Linked DNA regions of Homo sapiens: region 2 is linked to region 1. A link means that fine-mapping ties the variant in region 1 to the expression of a gene that starts in the linked region. Tissue or cell type: whole blood. Region 1 holds a variant in brackets; the other region holds the start of a gene. All regions are shown on one strand. Distances are from middle to middle.

Region 1 (2,684 bases):
TCTGCCTCCCGGGTTCAAGTGATTCTTGTGCCTCAGCCTCCTGAGTAGCTGGGATTACAGGCATGTGCCACCATGCCTGGCTAATTTTTTTTTTTGTATTTTTAGTAGAAACGGGGTTTCGTCATGTTGCCCAGGCTGGTCTTGAACTCCTGGGCTCAAGTGATCTGCCTGTCCCAACATGCCAAAGTGCTGGGATTACAGGCGTGAGCCACCACTCTTGGCCTATACTTTTGAGATGGGTTTTTTTCACTCAGCATAATTTCCTTGAGGTTAGTCTAAGTTGTTGGATATATCGATATTTCATTCCTTTCTATTACCGAGCTGTATTCCATGGTATGGATGTACAGTTTGTGTAAACATTCACCAGTTGGAAGACATTGGGTAGTTTCCAGTTGTTGGCTATTATGAATAAAGCTGCCATGAACATTCACCTGCAAGTTCCTATGTAGACGTTCTTCATTTCTCTGGGATAAATCACCAAAAATACAATTGCTGGGTTGTATTATAAGTTCATTATTAGTTTTGAAAGGGACTGCCCAACTATTTTCAAGAGTGATTGTGTGCAATCCGCCTTTTAAAACTGATAATACGGCCGGGCGTGGTGGCTCACGCCTGTAATCCCAGCACTTTGGGAGGCCAAGGCAGGCGGATCATGAGGTCAAGAGATGGAGACCATCCTGGCCAACATGATGAAACCTCATCTCTATGAAAAATACAAAAATCAGCTGGGCGTGGTGGTGCGCACCTGTAGTCCCGGCTACTCGGGAGGCTGAGGCAGGAGAATTGCTTGAACCCAGGAGGCAGAGGTTACAGTGAGCCTAGAGCCTAGATCGTGCCACTGCACTCCAGCCTGGTGACAGAGCAAGAGTCCATCTCAAAAAAAAATAAATAAATAAAAATAGAAAATAAACAAAACTGACAATATGTTATCAACAGTTCTCCTTATTGTTAAGCATTTACCATATCAAAATTCCAAAAATCGATATTCCATTGTATGACTGTACTATAACATTCTTTTGTTTTGAAAATAATTATATAACAAATACGCAATCATAATTTCCATTTCAGTTTTGAAGAATCACAAAGATACATGGAAACTATAAAGCACCTGAGG[T/C]ACCTTTCAGCTTTCAAGTCTCAAAAACAAGAATTACTTTCAATAGAAAGTAGCTCATCTTCCAAGTTTAAGAGAATAAAGAAGAGAATAAAGAGAATAAAGCTAATACCATTTTAGCTCCAAATGTTAATCAGACTACTTTATATCAAGGTAATATAGCTCGCAAGCATGGTAACAGCCAGGTTGAAAGTACTTTTTGTACTATAATGTTCTAGACCAATCTCCTAATTTTTAATATTTAGGTTTATTTCTGATTTTTGTGTTAAAAATAATAAAGTGAAAAATATTATTGTGGGCTGGGCGCAGTGGCTCACGTCTGTAATCCTAGCACTTTAGGAGGCTGAGGTGGGCGGATCATTTGAGTTCAGGAGTTTGAGACCAGCCTGGCCAACATGGTGAAACCCCATCTCTACTAAAAATACAAAAATTAGCCAGGTGTACTGGCTCAGGCCGGTAATACCAGCTAGGCAGGAGGCAGAGGCAGGAGAATCACTTGAACCCGGCAGGCAGAGGTTGCAGTGAGCCGAGATTGCACCATTGCATTCCAGCCTGGGTGACAAAACCAAAACTCTGTCTCAAAAAGAAAAGAAAACAATAAAAATAAAAGAAAAATATTATTGTGGATAACTGTATGCCTATTTCTGATTATTTCCTTAGAATGCATTTCTAAACATGGATATGCTGGCTCAAAGGGTATAAATGAACATTTTAAAGTCTTTTGCTGTTTTCCCAACTAAAACAGCTACTAAAAGGTGCTTTAATTTGCGCTCCCACAGGAATATATGAGAATTGGGACAAAATTTCTAAAAATACTAATATCGCAGCACAAATGGCAGTCAAATGGTTGGTATCTTAAATGCAGTATATAAATAGATGTTACAAATCAACTAAAAACAGATAAATACCCAATATCAAGTTGCTTTGGACTGCAAGTGATAGAGAACTCCATTCAAAATTATATAAACAATAGAGAAATGTATCATTTTACATAAAGAGTCTAAAGGTAGGGCAACTTCTGGTTTTGTTGATTTCATACAAAATTTTAATAAAAGATACCACAGTACATAGACTAAAAGTTCAGGCTCTGAAGCCAGACTGTTGTGTTTACATTCCAGCTCTTCCACTTACTAGGTGTGTAACATTGAGCGAGTTACCTATTTTTGCCTCAAGTTTCTCTTTTGAAAATGGTTACATTAAGAGCACCTATCTCAAGGTTTTTGTAAGAATGAAAAGAGTTAATATACATAAAATACCCATTAAGTGTTGATATTGTCAAGAGCCTAGGTCCTTTCTGTTTTTCTTTTCTTCTTTTTTGGTAAGGGGGAGGCAGAGCTCACTATGTTGCCCAGGCTGGTCTTGAACTCCTGGCCTCAAGCGATCCTCCCACTTCCGCCTCCCAAAGTGCTGAGATTACATGTGTGAGCCACCACACCCAGCTTCTTTCTGTTTTTCTGTTCTCCTATCCTCAGCATGTTAACCTTATTCCCAAGTCTTGAGACCTCAGGTCACAAGACAGCTGCAGTATGTCCAGGCATCATATTCAAAAAGACCAGCGATAGAAGAGACTAAG
Region 2 (2,684 bases), 130 kb after region 1:
TGCAACCACTTCTCTCCTTCTCCATCTTTCAGCCTTAAAAGTATGCTGGCTTGGAACACACACCAGAACTGCAGATGGATTTCCGACGGATGAATCACCTTCAGCAACCCCAGCAAGTTCTCATTAAATGTTTACCCTAAAGTAAGATTTTATGATCAAATCTAGTGTATCGTTAGTTTTTGGAAGTAGAATAATCACTGCAGGGTTTTACACTAGTATATATTAACTTGGGATTCCGTGATCCATGGATCTCTCCAAAGGATGTGCATATGTGCAAATGTGTTGATGGAGGGGGCAAGATTACTTTGCTTAGGTTATCAAAGGGGTCCTTGTGCCCCCCAAATTAAGAACTAATGGCTTAGAATATACCAACAAAGTATTTCCCATGCATAAACCCTGCAAGATAAACACTGATAAAGAACCAACACACAAAGATCTTCCCAATGAGCTTCAAGAAAAGCTTCCAACTGAGTGATCACTGCTGAACTTAAAGATAATGACAAAAATAACGGAGTTGCCACGGGTGTGGGGATTTTGAAGCTATGCCCCTCCTCCTCACCCCGACCTTGGAGAACTATATATACAGCATGAGAGGAAGGAAGTTTTGGCAATACCTCACATTCGTATACCACTTTAATTTACAGAACAGAGCCTTCGTTTGATTCTCAAGATAATCTTAAAAAAAAAAGAAAAAGATGATTTCAAGGTATTATCAGTAAGCCCATTTTACAGATGGGGAAACTAAAGCTCAAGAGACGGTTAGGTGACTTAGGACAATCAAAAATGACTAGTCAAACCAATGATCTAGCCAATTTCTAGTGCCGGTGAGTGGGAAGAGTGGTGAAGACCCTAAGACATATACCCCGTGGGCGCCTAAAGCACTAAGCTCACGACGCTGGGAAAGCGGGGCCGAGAAGGAGGGACTCGGGGCGACCCGACAGCGCCAGACAGGGCGGCCGGCGCCGAGGGCCGCTACCTCGGTGCGGCGGTACAGCGTGGCTTCCCCGAAGGCGCCGCGGCCCAGGACGCGGATGGGGATGTAGTGCAGTTCCTCCTGCTCCGCCGCGCCGCCGCCGGCTCGCGGCCCCTGACTGGCGCTAGGCCCCGGACTCGAGTCCCCGCAACCCCCGGACTCGCTCCCAAAGTCCGAGTTGATGGAATCGCAGTGTCGCTCGTACTCGCCCAGCACCGACATGGCGGCGGCCGCGGGCCTTGGGGACCAGCCTGCGTATGCCCGGAGGCCCTGGCCGCGCTGCGTCCCGCTCGCTTCAGATGCCGGCCCGCGGATCCGTCAGCCCAGCAACCCCGCGAAGCTCGATGGTGGCTCCTGCCCCCCGACCCGGAAACAGTTCTCTGTGTTTCCGGCCTGGCTGAGTTTCCTCCGCCTTTGCTTACCCTCTTGGCTAGTCTAGCGGCCAAGGCTTCCCGCTTTCGGGGAAGGCCTGCAAAGTGAGGCCTCGGGCTAGGGTTGGCGGGCGCGTGGTGGGAACCGCGTGGAACCGAAGGGCTCCCACGGGAACAAGGGCATCACTGACGGTACGGCCTCTCGGGTCTATTGACCCTTCTCTGCCTCCCCGGTCCGGACTCATACAACTTGGAGGCCCAGAGGTCGTCCAGTCTCATCTTGACGTCAGGTCTGTGACAAGAGGGTGATTGGGGAAGCATTCCCAGTGTACACCTTCTTCCCCATTCCAACGTTGGACAGCATTCTTTTTTAGAGAGATAGTATAGTAAAGATAATATGGCCGGGCAAGGTGGCTCACGCCTGTAATCTCAGCATGTTAGGAAGCCGAGGCGGGCGGATCACCTGAGGTCAGGCGTTTGAGACCAGCCTGACCAACTGGTGAAACCCCGTCTCTATAAAATACAAAAATTAGCCAGGCGTGGTGGCAGGCACCTGTAATCCCAGCTACTCCAGAGGCTGAGGCAGGTGAATCACTTGAACCCGGAAGGAGGAGGTTGCAGCGAGCCGAGATCGCGCACTACACTCCAGCCTGGATAACAGAGCGAGACTTTGTCTCAAAAAAAAAAAAAATAATAATAATATAGACAGCCTAAATGTCTGCCTCCGGTCATCTCGGTCCCTGGGCCGAGTTCTTTCTCCCAGGGCCATCCTAAGTCCCTCCCTCTTCTACACAACTCCAAAAATATTTTAAGTCAACTCTCCTGACACTTTCCTTCTCCCCCGTCTCTTTTTCCAGATTCAATTTATTCTATGTGTTTTTCCAGATATTTGACCATATGATATCATGAAACATTCTTTGAGCACTTGGTGCCACACACTGTTTGGGAACAGGAAATCTGCAATAATGTTCTCCCTACCGTCAAGTAGGAAAACAGCAATACGGTGAACAATAGGTGTTCCATCAGTTATGTGACCTTGGGCAATTATGTGACCTTGGGCAACTTCTCATCTCCAAGCTTGTTTTGTTGTGAGAATGTGGTCTACATCACAGACATAACAGCTAACATTTATTGAGTGTTATGTTCTGGGTACTATGCTAAAGGTTTTTTACGTATTATCTCACATTATTATGTATTATCCTATGTATTATGTATTATGTATTATCCTAACATTCCCATTTTACAGAAACAGAGGTACCTAAGTAACCTGCTTAATGTGACAGACCTAGTAAGAGGGAGCTGGGAAGTTGAACCCAGCAATCTGAAAAAGCAGGATGTGA

What was found. PIP is the estimated chance that this variant, and not a neighbour inherited with it, causes the effect.
Region 2: NEK9 starts here. The variant in region 1 is fine-mapped to the expression of NEK9 in whole blood (TOPMed, PIP above 0.99).

The regions. Positions count from the first base shown.
Region 1 is chr14:74,990,829-74,993,512 of GRCh38, forward strand. No RefSeq gene overlaps it. Among named protein-coding and RNA genes, the nearest start is that of EIF2B2, 11 kb to the right of the region's middle. The variant T/C (reference allele first, on the strand shown) is at 1,115.
Region 2 is chr14:75,125,727-75,128,410 of GRCh38, forward strand. NEK9 (NIMA related kinase 9) reads right to left here and starts at 1,322. Exons shown (of 22, transcript NM_033116.6): 1 at 977-1,322. The coding sequence starts at 1,195. RefSeq lists enhancers at 1,186-1,235, 1,246-1,375.